Linked DNA regions of Homo sapiens. The protein of the gene in region 1 purifies or fractionates together with the protein of each later gene. This does not show direct contact. Each region holds a gene or a part of one and is shown on either strand. Other genes may lie near its edges. The genes, in order: PARN, ARHGEF1, EXOSC10 and XRN1.

What was found.
Region 2: the proteins of PARN (region 1) and ARHGEF1 fractionate together in Homo sapiens (co-fractionation; one large-scale study listed by BioGRID). This does not show direct contact.
Region 3: the proteins of PARN (region 1) and EXOSC10 fractionate together in Homo sapiens (co-fractionation; one large-scale study listed by BioGRID). This does not show direct contact.
Region 4: the proteins of PARN (region 1) and XRN1 fractionate together in Homo sapiens (co-fractionation; one large-scale study listed by BioGRID). This does not show direct contact.

Annotation. Positions count from the first base shown.
Region 1 is NC_000016.10:14,435,086-14,438,273, reverse strand, and holds the end of PARN (poly(A)-specific ribonuclease PARN), read left to right. Parts: intron 1-1,501; coding exon 1,502-1,557; 3' UTR 1,558-2,573; downstream 2,574-3,188. UniProt on the Homo sapiens protein: 3'-exoribonuclease that has a preference for poly(A) tails of mRNAs, thereby efficiently degrading poly(A) tails.
Region 2 is NC_000019.10:41,893,131-41,896,758, forward strand, and holds part of ARHGEF1 (rho guanine nucleotide exchange factor 1), read left to right. Parts: intron 1-143; coding exon 144-173; intron 174-1,076; coding exon 1,077-1,176; intron 1,177-1,320; coding exon 1,321-1,417; intron 1,418-1,495; coding exon 1,496-1,531; intron 1,532-2,218; coding exon 2,219-2,356; intron 2,357-3,246; coding exon 3,247-3,352; intron 3,353-3,628. UniProt on the Homo sapiens protein: Seems to play a role in the regulation of RhoA GTPase by guanine nucleotide-binding alpha-12 (GNA12) and alpha-13 (GNA13) subunits. Acts as a GTPase-activating protein (GAP) for GNA12 and GNA13, and as guanine nucleotide exchange factor (GEF) for RhoA GTPase.
Region 3 is NC_000001.11:11,089,834-11,093,461, reverse strand, and holds part of EXOSC10 (exosome complex component 10), read left to right. Parts: intron 1-1,864; coding exon 1,865-1,969; intron 1,970-2,282; coding exon 2,283-2,448; intron 2,449-2,793; coding exon 2,794-2,908; intron 2,909-3,628. UniProt on the Homo sapiens protein: Catalytic component of the RNA exosome complex which has 3'->5' exoribonuclease activity and participates in a multitude of cellular RNA processing and degradation events.
Region 4 is NC_000003.12:142,306,024-142,309,115, forward strand, and holds the end of XRN1 (5'-3' exoribonuclease 1), read right to left. Parts: 3' UTR 587-3,092; downstream 1-586. UniProt on the Homo sapiens protein: Major 5'-3' exoribonuclease involved in mRNA decay. Required for the 5'-3'-processing of the G4 tetraplex-containing DNA and RNA substrates. The kinetic of hydrolysis is faster for G4 RNA tetraplex than for G4 DNA tetraplex and monomeric RNA tetraplex.

The DNA.
Region 1 (3,188 bases):
TTTCTTTCATATGTGAATTATAAAAGTGCCCTTAATGGATGTTTCTTTTCATACAGTTAGGTGTTTATTGTATCATTGTGGGACTGGGAAGGCCAGGCTAGCTGCAGGTTATCACAGGCCCCTTGCAGTACTTCACTGGACCCCATGAGTCCTTTTCAGTGGATCATCTCCTGCCCATCTTCACTTCTCCAGAGTGGTCTCGCCATCTTTACTGGGTGTCCCAGAACGTGCCTGTTCAGAGCGATGAGACCCAGGGCAGAAAGAGTCCGGTTACCCTTTCCCGGTCTCCTCACCCTAACTCCCTGGATCTTATCACAGTAAATGATCAGAAGTAGAAATTCTCATGTTAGCTGAAATTCTCTTCATGTTTTTTCTTGTGTTCAGACCTCGTTATTTTTAAGCATCCCTGTTACTGATGATAACCACTGTGAACTCAGTGATATGATTCCCTAGTTTGTAAGACACTGCACCCCCTCTGTATTTAAAAGTTATTTCCCATTGGAGGTATCATCAAAGACTTCTCTCCCTTTCTAAAATCTTGGTGTTAGCAGCTAGAAGAGAGACTGCCAGTTTCCCCCGTCAGCCCTACTTTATGACTTAATGCATGGCACCACTTGTGCAGCTGACGCCTGGTCGGGCCACACTTTCCATTATGAACATGCTCTTTCCTGACTTCCCTCACATTCGTTGAAGTCCAGTCCCAGCTCAGTTGCTGGCCGCAGCTGCTCGTATTGTAGAAAGTGGCATGAATAAAAAAGAAGGGCTTCTGACATTGGGGTGAAACTTTGTCACTGAAGAGATCTTTTCAATCCAAGAAGAGGACCCCAGCCAGCTTCACCGAAGCTGGAAAAAGCTGCAACCTTCTTTTGCCCCTGTTGAGATATTGGAACCCCCACTGGTTGGCTTCCCTCTGCCCTTCAGCTGCCCACCTGAGATTTCTCACCTAGGCAGAGCCACAGCACAGCACAGAGAAACTCAGTTTCCAGGGACTTTGGCAGGGATGTTGGTGCTGTGGGAGGATTCAGACCCCATCTCAGCCACTTGCTAGCTCTGTACATCTGGTCATATTACCCCACTTCTCTCAATCTGTTCTTGCATCTGTAAAATGGGGTAGTGTTACCACCTTGGTGGGCTTTTAATGAAGATTATATGAATTAAATGCCCGCTGTATTGCCAACAAAGAATCCAGCATGGTGTTCAGTGAGGAATACTGTGCATGGCTACAGTTTAACTCCTGTGAAATAAATAGATAGATGCTGGAGGCAGGGAGGTGCTTCCTCCGCGCCCCCATGATGTTTCTGTGGTTTCACTTTCCCATGCTGGGCACTGCCCTCCCTAGACAAGACCTGTCTGTGGACTCTTTCCAGCGCAGCTGTTTAGCCAGACGCTGGCCCCGTCTGCAGCCGTCACAGGCCCTCTGTCTGTCTGCTGGTCATGTCATGCTCTCCTCAAGGTGCCGTCCTGGTCCTGCTGTTCATATTGTTTTGTTCTTTCCCACCAGGAAGCATCTCGAAGAACAGCCCTGCCACACTCTTTGAAGTTCCTGACACATGGTAACCAAGACCTGAGGGCAGCAAACCGCTGGTGCTGTCGCTGTGAGCAAGAGCCGGCTGGCACATTTGGAAGCCGCACTGTATTTAACTTAATCAAATGTGGTATGGGAGGGGTTGGAAACCAAGTTGTCTCCTGGGGGGGAGAAAACAGGTTTTATTTTTGTGGCTGTGGTTTTTTCCCCTTTTTAATCTAACTGCCTGTTGACATTGACACTCATCACGGTTGTAGGCTGTCATGAATGTGTACGTGCTTAACCAGTGAATTCCGTGTTGCTCTTGTGAGGCCTTTCCTGTCATGACCCAGTGTGCTTAAGAACCTGCCTGATGGGGAGTGTCGGCTGTGAAATCTGCAAAAAGAGCTGACATTCCAGCTGCTGTGATCATGAATTTGGGGGTGTACTGTCCTGCCTGTGCATCTTCTCGCACTGAGATTTTGAGGCAGTTGCAGCCCTCGGTTAGTCTCCCAGTGGAAAAATCGGTTGTGCCTCCCTGCTTCCCACCATAGCTGCCTGAAAACATGACGCTCTCAAGCTTGTCCTTCCTTCAGGAAGATGTCCACTCATGCCCACCCATGAGAGGGCTTGCCGTATGCCCTGGCCTTTGGGCATATTTATGTAGAGTTCCTTTCTCCTAAGACGTGAGTTTCTCATGGGGGATGTACGAGTAAAAAGGTTAACTTCTGTTCTTATGCGTGGCGCTGTGTTCACTTTCCAGAGTCTCTGTTCGTTTGTTTGGATGGCGGTCTCGGGGTACGGCAGCGTGTGTGCGTACGTGTCTGTGTGTGTGTGTGTGTGTGTGTGTGTGTGTGTGTGTGTGTGTGTGTGAAATCGTGCAAATCTACAACATGTCCCAGCCCATTCTCCGTTGAAACAGATCACAGCAACGACAAACGCTCATGGCGCTGCTTTGCTCCACCCGCTTCAGATAGATCATTGTTAGATATTTCACATTTTTGTATGGTGGAAATAAAAATGAAAAATGTATTTCCAAAAGATGAAAATTAAAAACATTTTCATAGGACTCTGGTTTTCTCCTCTCTTTTTTTTTAATAAGTGAATGATGTTTTCGCTCTCTAGTAATACACAGATAAATTTCACACTCCTAAAAAAATCTGCTAAGCCACTAAGGCTGATGTTCATGGATTTTTTTCTTCTTCTTTTTACCCCTAACTGCTATACCTGCCACGATGGATCGGCTCCTCAGTACCGAGCTGAGCCCTGGTGGTAAGTGGCCTTGTAGGAGGGTGGGAGGAATGAGGACCCTTAGCACTCACACTGGAATCCCAGGGTGTTATGCAGATTCCGATTTGTAAGACAGTTTCCCTAATCAAGAGCCTCTGTCACACCTGTAAGCTGAGACGGGAGGATCACTTGAGCCCAGGAGTTCAAGACCAGCATGGACAACGCAGTGAGACCCTGTCTTTAAAAAAAAAAAAAAAAAAATTTTTTTTTTTTTTTTTTTTAAAGCATGTTAACTTCTCTTCCCCCTTCCTGCTCCTCTCCCTTCCTACAAAACTCCCTGGAGTTTTGTAGCCACAAAGTTAGAAACCCAGGCTTGGCAGGAAGGACTGCCCACCCCTCCTAGAGTAGTCAGCACACACGGCTCAGTGGAAAGTGTGAAGGTAGGATGGAGACA
Region 2 (3,628 bases), on another chromosome or scaffold:
CCTTCCCAATCCCTTCCACAGTGTCCCCTCTCTGTCTCTCTTCCCCCTGCCTATCCCAGGACAGCAACCCTGAGATGTATCCTGGGTGGATGGGGACCCCAGGCCTAGCAAATATGTCACAAACATCTCTCTTCCTCCTACAGACATACCATCTCTACCGACGAAGAAAAGAGGTGAGGGGGGCAGGGGAGGCGTGCGGCCTCCTGGGTTTGAGGGAGGAGGGGGCTGAGGGCCTGGACTCCTGGGTCTGAGGGAGGAGGAGGCTGGGGGGCCTGGACGCCTGGGTCTGAGGGAGGAGGGGGCTGGGGGGCCTAGACGCCTGGGTCTGAGGGAGGAGGGGGCTGGGGGGCCTGGACGCCTGGGTCTGAGGGAGGAGGGGGCTGGGGGGCCTGGACGCCTGGGTCTGAGGGAGGAGGGGGCTGGGGTCCTGGACGCCTGGGTCTGAGGGAGGAGGGGGCTGGGGGCCTGGACGCCTGGGTCTGAGGGAGGAGGGGGCTGGGGGCCTGGACTCCTGGGTCTGAGGGAGGAGGAGGCTGGGGGCCTGGACTCCTGGGTCTGAGGGAGGAAGGGGCTGGGGGGCCTGGACGTCTGGGTCTGAGGGAGGAGGGGGCTGGGGGGCCTGGACGCCTGGGTCTGAGGGAGGAGGGGGCTGGGGGGTCTGGACTCCTGGGTCTGAGGGAGGAGGGGGCTGGGGGCCTGGACTCCTGGGTCTGAGGGAGGAAGGGGCTGGGGGCCTGGACTCCTGGGTCTGAGGGAGGAGGGGGCTGGGGGCCTGGACTCCTGGGTCTGAGGGAGGAGGGGGCTGGGGGCCTGGACTCCTGGGTCTGAGGGAGGAGGAGCCTGGGGCCTGGACACTTGGGTCCTGGGCATTGGGTAACAGCCCTTGCCCCTGTCCTTTTGAACCCTCTCATCTCTCCTCAGAGTCTCACAGGAAGTAGTTGTGGGGTCAGGATGGGAAGGCCGGGCCTCTGCCTCTAGGGGGAGAGAGAGAGAGTGTGTGTGTGAGTGTGTGTGTGTGTGTGTGTGTGTGTGTGTGTCTTTGTGTGTGTTGAGCCCTCACTGTCCCTTCCCTACAGTGCTGCCGTGGTCAACGCCATTGGCCTGTACATGCGCCACCTTGGGGTGCGGACCAAGAGTGGAGACAAGAAGTCGGGGAGGAACTTCTTCCGGAAAAAGGTGCTTCCCTCAGTGCCCCGTCCTGACCCTTTCCTCTCCAGAGACGCCCTGGGAGCCTCATGACTCTGGATACCTAGCGTCAAATTCTGCTTTGTTGTTGTCTCAGAGATGCTTAGCCTGGTCTTCCTCCCCGCCCTCTCACAGGTGATGGGGAACCGGCGGTCGGACGAGCCTGCCAAGACCAAGAAGGGGCTGAGCAGCATCCTGGATGCCGCCCGCTGGAACCGGGGAGAGCCCCAGGGTAAGGCGGCTCTGGCCTCTGCCCTCCCCTGTCTTCCCCAGCTGCTCCCACTCACTGTCTCATTCTCTCTCGTTTCAGTTCCAGATTTTCGACACCTCAAAGCAGAGGTTGATGGTAATGTACCTGTAGCCATAGCATCCATACTGGGGGCCTGTGTGGGAGAGGCTAGGACCTGGACGCCTGGGTCTGAGGGAGGAGGGGCTGGGACCTGGACGCCTGGTTCTGAGGGAGGAGGGGATGGGGGCCTGGACACCTGGGTCTGAGGGAGGAGGGGCTGGGGGAGCTCCTGGGTCTGAGGGAGGAAGGGCTGGGCCTGGACCCCTGGGTCTGAGGGAGGAGGGACTGGGCCTGGACCCCTGGCTCTGAGGGAGGAGGGGCTGGGGGAGCTCCTGGGTCTGAGGGAGGGAGGCCTGGGGCCTGGACCCCTGGGTCCGAGGTAGGAGGGATTGGGCCTGGACCCCTGGGTCTGAGGGAGGAGCGGCTCAGACTCGGACTCTTAGGTCTGAGGAGGAAGGGCTGGGCCTAGACCCCTGGGTCTGAGGGAGGAGGGGCTGGGGGAGTTCCTGGGTCTGAGGGAGGAAGGCCTGGGGCCTGGACCTCTGGGTCTGAGGGAGGAGGGGCTGGGGGCCTGGACTCCTGTGTCTGAGGGAGGAGGGGTTGAGGGCTCCTGGGTCTGAGGGAGGAAGGGGCTCCTTGTCATGGTGGGGAAGGGCCTGAGCACAGCCTCTTGCATCCCCTGGCGGTTGTGGATTTGAGTTACTGTTCTCTTATCTCCCTCTTTCTCCCTCACTGTCTCCCCAGCCGAGAAGCCAGGTGCTACAGACCGGAAGGGAGGCGTGGGGATGCCCTCTCGGGACCGGAATATCGGGGCTCCTGGGCAGGACACCCCTGGAGTCTCTCTGCACCCTCTGTCCCTGGACAGCCCAGACCGGGAACCAGGTGAGAGTTTCCTGGGCCAGGGCTCCATGAGGCCCGGCGATCCAGGGTGGGGGTGCTGCCTGCCCCCTTGGCACCCCCAGATAGAAGCCATTCCCCAGCAACACCTCCCCTTTGCTCTCAGCATCCACTTCTCCCTGCTCCTGGTCACCACTGTCATTCATAACTTTCCCCTTCCCTCAGTTTGCCCTTTCCACAGCTTTGCTCCCAGGCTCTGACCTCTCTGCTGGTGCTGCGTCTCCCACCCCCTTGGACTACGTTTTCCATCAACCCTTCCTTTTCCAGAACCTTCCCTGAGTACATGACCAGTCCACCCTCTGAGCTGCATTGCTGGCCCCCTAGGTGGGGAGCCCGCCAGCCCCATGAGCTTCATCCCTCACCATCCTTACACTGCTGTGGCCTCAGGCCCTTGGATCTCTGCATGGCCAGGCCAGGGCTCACACACCAGCTCTGCTGACTGCTTGTGTTTATTTAGTATCTTGGATATGACTCCCCTTTCTTAGCCTCCGTTTGCTTTTCTCTAAAGGAGTATGAGAGGGTGGGGAGGATGAATGGACGTGGAGGCAGCACAGAATCCAGGGCCCTCCCGACCTCAGGGGGCTGCAGTCTGGTTGGGTGGGAGAGATGTTTGTGACCTATTTGCTAGGCCTGGGGTCCCCATCCACCCAGGACACACAGGGGCACCCACTTCTGTTGCATCTTCATGCTCCTGCCCCTAGTGGCCATGTTCTGAGAGGTCTTAACATCTGTCCGTCCCGTGCTGAAGTACAGAGCAGCCATGTGGTGTCTGCCAGGCACTGGGTAGCTTTAGCCCCCGCAATTCCAGGCCCCCAGAGTGTGGGTCTCGTGGCCGCAGAGGCCTTCCAGCCAGCCCTGCTCCCTCCACCCCACAGGTGCTGACGCCCCCCTGGAGCTGGGGGACTCATCCCCGCAGGGCCCAATGAGCCTGGAGTCCTTGGCGCCCCCAGAGAGTACCGACGAGGGGGCCGAAACCGAGAGGTGCCCAGGCTGGGGTGCAGGGGCGGGAGGTGTGGCTTACTGGGCGCTGGTGGGTGGGTGCAGGGTCACCGCTGCCATCTGTGCCTGCCTGTCCCAGGCTCTTGCTCCCCATGCTCCTCTGCTGCTCTCTGGGTCTGGCCATTCCTCTCCCTTCTTCTTTCCTTTTCTCATCTCCCTCCTGCTTCCTCATTGCCCCCCTTTCCTTTTATCCTTCCTTTTTCCTCTGCTCCTTCCTCTCCTTCCTTTTTTCACTAATCCTTCTCCTCCTCCCTTCCT
Region 3 (3,628 bases), on another chromosome or scaffold:
CAGTTTCTGGTATATTGTGATTTCAAGTCCTGCCATAATCCTATGTGTCACCTGGTTGTGCCTCTGTTAGTAGTGCCCAAGCTGATATTTCACGTCTGCTTTAAAGTGCAAAATAGATGAGGACTCCCTGCAGTTTCATTCTAAATAGTGTACTTCTATATTTAATGTATGCAGTCCAGGGACTTCTTAGTTATTTTAGTGGCCACATTACACTGTTAAATCATATTAGAATTTTCAGCCCAATTCAGAGCTTTAAAGAGTCAATCGAGTATTGGGCATGGGTAATTACTGTCCTACCTGCCTTTGAGCAAATAATGCATTAATTACTTGGCATGACATACTAATGACCTTTATTGATCAACTTTGTAAAATTTTTATTTTTTTATTGACAAAAATTGTATAGGCGATCATTTACATGGTTATGTCTCAATAAACCTATATTATAAGTCAAAAATGCATTTAATACACCTCACTTACCAAATAGCTTAACTGAACCTGCTTTAAATGTGCTCAGAAAACTTCCATTAGTCTACAGTTGGGCAAAATCTTACACAAAGCCTATTTTTATAATACAGTGTTGAATATTCATCTCATGTAATTCAAGTAGCATTGAATACACTTCTGAAAGTGAAAAACAGGTTGTGGCCGGGCACAGTAGCTCATGCCTGTAATCCTAGCATTTTGGGAGGCCAAGGCAGGTGGATCACTTGAGGTCAAGAGTTCAAGACCAGCTTGGTCAACATAGTGAAACCCCATCTCTACTAAAAAATACAAAAATTAGCTGGGCGTGGTGGCGTGCACCTGTAGTCCCAGATACTCGGGAGGCTGAGGCATGAGAATTGCTTGAACCCAGGAGGCGAAGACTGCAGCAAGCTGAGATTGGACCACTGCACTCCAGCCTGGGCAACAGAGTGAGACTCCCTCTCAAAAAAAAAAAAAAGAAAAACAGGGCCAGGCACAGTGGCTTACGCCTGTAATCCTAGCACTTTGGGAGGTCGAGGCAGGCAGCTCACAAGGTCAAGAGATCGAGACCATCCTGGCCAACCTGGTGAAACCCTGTCTCTACTAAAAATACAAAAATTAGCTGGGCGTGGTGGTGCATGCCTGTAGTCCCAATTACTTGGGAGGCTGAGGCAGGAGAATCGCTTGAACCCGGGAGGCAGGTTGCAATTAGCTGAGATCACGCCATTACACTTCAGCCTGGCAACAGAGCAAGACTCTGTCTCAAAAAAGAAAAAAGAAAAACAGGTGGTAAGTGTACTTGAAATATGGATTCTACTAAATGCAAATCACTTTCACATCATTGTAAACTCAAAAACTTACAAGTCAAACTGTCATACATTGGGGACCATCTATATATTTATTACATACAACTTGATGTTTTGATACATACATTGATCTGTTCTTATATATGTATATTTTCTTACACAAATGTCTCTGAATACCAATCTCTTTAAAATGTTAGGTAATTAGGTGGGGCACGGTGGCTCACGCCTATAATCCCAGCATTTTGGGAGGCTCAGGTGGGCGGATCACTTGAGGTCAGGAGTTCGAGACCAGCCTGGCCAACCGGGTGAAACCCCATCTCTACTAAAAATAAAAAATTAGCCAGGTATGGTGGTGCACACCTGTAATCCCAGCTACTCGGGAGGCTGAGGCAGGAGAATCGCTTGAACCCTGGAGGCAGAGGTTGCAGTGAGCCCAATTCAGAACTGTAAAGAGTTGCAGTGAGGCAAGATTGCGCCACTGCACTCCAGCCTGGGTGACAGAGTGATACTCCATGTTAAATAAATAAAATGTTAGGTAGTTAACTCTGCTAACCTCAAAAGGAAAAATGCTTAACCAGTACCTCTTCTACTCTTAGGGTATTTTACTGGATGAAGCCTCAGGTGTAAACAAGAATCAACAGCCTGTCCTCCCTGCCGGCTTGCAGGTCCCCAAAACGGTAGTGTCCAGCTGGAACCGTAAGGTGAGGGCTTTTCAGATTAACTAGAGCTCTTGATGTCAGCTTCATAACAGAGATTTTGCTCATTCTAACATGCATTTCTGTTCTAATTTATTAGAGAACTGGCCACTGTCTCCTTTAGTTTGTTCTCATAAACATACACAAACTAATTACACCCTCTTCTTCTCTTTCTGGAGACCTCTACATGCACATACATTCTTAAATGAATGAATGACCTTTGCGATGTTCTTGTCTCCTCAGAAGTCATAAATTGGAATTTACTTTTCTAATTCATCAAGTTGCTGTGTTATAAAGTATTTGTATTCATTGATCATAGGCAGCAGAATATGGCAAAAAAGCAAAATCTGAAACTTTCCGGCTGCTTCATGCAAAAAATATCATCCGACCTCAGCTCAAGTTTCGAGAGAAGATTGACAATTCCAACACACCATTTCTTCCTAAAATCTTCATCAAACCCAATGCTCAGAAACCTCTCCCTCAAGGTAAATAGTGCATACTTTGCCTGTGTTTGAGTCTCACTTTATTTGATGCAAAAACCAGGAAGGGTGTACAGGTCTCTCTTCTTTGTTCAAAGGGAGCCCACCCTCCTTTGTTCAAAGGGAGCCCAGTTCAGCTATTCCAGAGGCTGAAGTGGGAGGATCACTTGAGCCCAGGAGGTCAAGGCTACAGTGAGCTGTGCTTGTGCCACCACACTTCAGCCTGGGGGACAGAACATGACCCTGTCTCAAAAAAAAAAGCCAAAAAACAAAGGGAACCAGTTTACCCCTGTGTAATTAGAAAAGACATGAATGTGCTAATGATGTTTTTGTCACTGCTGGGATCCCCAGCTCTCTCTAAGGAAAGGCGGGAACGCCCACAGGATCGTCCTGAGGACTTGGACGTCCCCCCTGCACTGGCTGATTTCATCCATCAGCAGAGAACCCAGCAGGTTGAGCAAGACATGTAAGTGTTGGCCTGTGTCTGACTTTCTGCCGTGAGTACTTACCTTTTTGCCACATTTTCACTTTTGTGGAGTATATACATGAAAACAATCTGAGGAGTAGTGATTTCCTCCTTACACCCCAACCTGGGCCTTAGCAATAAAACCTGCTGTTTGTGTTCACAAAGGGCCTACACAGCATTGCCTCATGTAAACCTCACTGCAGTCCTGAGAAGTAGCAGTTGCTCTTATTCCCATTTTATAGATGTAAAACACGAAGGCTGGGCGCGGTGGCTTACGCCTGTAATCCCAGCACTTTGGGAGGCTGAGACCGGTGGATCACCTGAGGTCAGGAGTTCGAGACCAGCCTGGCCAACATGGTGAAACCCCATCTCTACTGAAAATACAAAAATTAGCCAGGCGAGGTGGTGTGTGCCTGTAATCCCAGCTACTCGGGAGGCTGAGGCAGGAGAATCGCTTGAACTTGGGAGGTGGAGGTTGCAGTGAGCCAAGATGGCGTCACTGCACTCCAGCCTGAGTGATAGAGTAAGACTCCATCTCAAAAAAAAAAAAAAAAAAAGATGTAAAAGCAAAATTAGAGATGCAGGCTTCTTGTAGAGTTGGAACTTCTTTGAGACAGGGTCTTGCTCTGTCGCCCAGACTGGAGTGTGGTGGCATGAACACAGCTCACTACAGCCTTTACCTCCTGGGCTCAAGTGATCCTCCTGCCTCTGCCTCCCAAG
Region 4 (3,092 bases), on another chromosome or scaffold:
TAGTGTATAGTGGAATACTACTCAGCTATAAAAAGGAATGAATTAGTGGCATTTGCAGCAACCTGGATGAGAATGGAGACTATTATTCTAAGTGAAGTAACCCAGGAATGAAAAACCAAACATTGTATGTTCTCACTCATAAGTGGGAGCTAAGCTATGAGGATGCAAACGCATAAGAATGACACAATGGATTTTGGGGGTCAGAGGGAAAGTGTGGGAAGGGGCCAAGGGATAAAAGACTACAAATTGTGTGCAGTGTATACTGCTCAGGTGATGGGTGAACCAAAATCTCACAAATCACCACTAAATAACTTATTCATGTAACCAAACACCACCTGTTCCCCAATAACCTATGGAAATAAAAAAAATTAAAAAATTGGCCAGGCATGGTGGCATGTGCCTGTAGTCCCAGGTACTCAGGAGGCTGAGGCAAGAGAATCGCTTGAACCTGGGAGGTGAAGGCTGCAGGGAGCCGAGATCTCCAGCCTGGGCGACAGAGCAAGATTCTGTCTCAAAAACAAACAAACAAAAAGACTAATGTTTCTACTTTTGATATCAGCATAGTAATAAAAGAACAAACAGCTTATAAAATCATTCTCAAGTCTTTAATTAAAATCCATAGAGCATTTAACATGAACAGATGTTTAAACTCTTTCAGTGACTCTCATATTTTAAAATCCTTTGCACAGCATCGTGAGGCTAACTTCATGCTAGAAATCTACGGATAACGTAACACCACAAAAATACATTCGGAGTCCATTCCAATGCAAGTTTAAAACACTTTAATTGGCAGACAATGTAAAGATATTTAAAATCAAAAATTACAAAATGAGCACATAAAAGTCTTCCCTTTTGAATTTTTAATAAAATACTTCTCTGTATAAGATCTAATGAAAAATTCCAGTTACTTATAAAATAGTTGAGAAATCAATTAAGATATGTATCTATATATGTATGAATTACACTTTTGTTTAAATGAACAAAATGTTGAACACTTCAATGACAGCACAGCATCTATTACTCACATTAAACTAGATGAAAATACTCAAAGAAGCAGTTGGATACAGGCAAAAGAAAATATGATACTTAAAGCCAAAAGACAAAAAAATCCAAAAAACGAAAACAACCTCCCCATCCCCCACCAAACCCTTAACTGTAAGGGAAAGAAAGGAAGAGAGAACTTAAAGCTAACTATGGACCAAATTCTCATTCTTTTTAATGAGAAACAGCATGAGAATTTGGCTTCAAATTACTAAAACAGCTACAGAAACCTATTTGGCCTGGACAATTTAATAGTATACCAACTGCTGAAACAACCAAGTGCAGTTGGTGTACGGCTGGAGGGAAAAAAAAAAAGACTTTTTACAGGTTTAACTTTGTAAAAAAATGTATCTTTTGGAAACCATAGTCTCCTTCACAAATTGCACTTGAGATGGCTGAATGCATTGATTGAGCAAGGCATTATTATTTGTTCACTGACACACACACAAAAGCAGCTACAGATAGTTGACATTTTGGACTACTAAAACTATTTTATACATGTTTTTCTTCTTTAAGAAAAGGATCTATGATGTCTGTGAAACTTAACGGCCTGTCTGCTCTGCCATGTTTCTGGAGACTTGATGCTGGTTCAACACTATCTCTTACTGTATTGGAGAAGTTTGATGGAAATATGAATAAAGTCAGTCCGAACGACATTAATTTCTGGAATTTTAAGCTTTATCTTGACTAGGAAAGGAAGCTCCTGCAAAACTGATGGTTTCACTGACAAAGCTTACAAAATGTATATACTGAGCACTGCCAGTTTGAGTACTATAATTTATCTCTAGAAAAATGACAAATGAACTTCTGCAATTGATTTTTAAAGACAGAGAACGACTTTCACAGCCACTTCTCTACAATAAATTAATTGTCTTCTACAGTAAAAACAAAATTTGGAAGCAACATGATACCAAGAAATACAGCAAGCTCATAAGGCTGAGAAATTGTACAGTTGCTTTAAAAAACTGTGCTCTAAATAATGGGAAGAAGCGTGACAGAACTAACTTGAGTGAAGATCTGCACAGCTCTATCTCATATAATAAAAGTAAAAATTAGACAACCACTATAAACAGTTATGACTAACACAAATAGAACACATAAATAAAAAGTGAGTAAAAAAGACCTTACAGTTTATCTATTTCCTTGTGCTAGAAAGATACGGTATAGTCCAAAAATGCAGTGACTGGGTATGTCTTATTTAACTGTTTTTCTTCTTCCATCTGCCTCCCTCTCTCTGCCTCCTCTCATTAAAACCAAGAATCTAGCTTAGTTTGGAAGTAGCAGTCTAAAATGAAAGCAGGTACCTGATCATAGAAAGAAACAATAAAAAAACTTGCATCAATAGTTCTTCATTCCTCCACCAATCGGGAAAAAAACCCTTCAATCTTTATTAGTTACCCCTTTGAAAAGCAAGAAAAATCTTAAATTGAAACCAAGGTTCAGTAGAGGTGACTTTAATTTTTTTCTGCAACTACAACTGAGTCTTAGATGTTTAAGACTTTAGTCTACATGATGTTTAAATCAATTAATACATTCAAATTCTAACGCTGAGGTAATTATTAGGTAATGCAGGAAAATGTGAAAAGGAACGAGACTGGAAGGAGCAATCTTCAAAATTCACTTAAGTTGCTCAAAAAAGAAAAAACTTATTGAATAGAAATATTTAGAAATAATGTTTCAGTTAGGAGACAAAGGCTTAAATAGATTGAAGTGCTCTAGTTATGTGGAAGCATAAAGCAATTTGGGGAATCTGTCCTATGCCCTAAACAGTCCACCATTTTCACAAAAAGTCCTCAGAAGATTCAAGTTGAATGAGCATATTTTTAAACTTTGGGGGTGGTCTTAGTCCACCCCATCTCAAAGAGAGAATTTTAAATTTCTTGAAGTCCAACTGCTTTTCAGATATACTCTAAATTCCAGGTCTATCAACAGATTGTTTCCTCAACATGGGGCAGAAATGGCCTCTGCTTCTTACATCCTCCATAGGGAGGGCACATCTCCCATTGACCTCAGGCCCACATTTAGAATGGGTCTACAGGGGGAAAAGAATA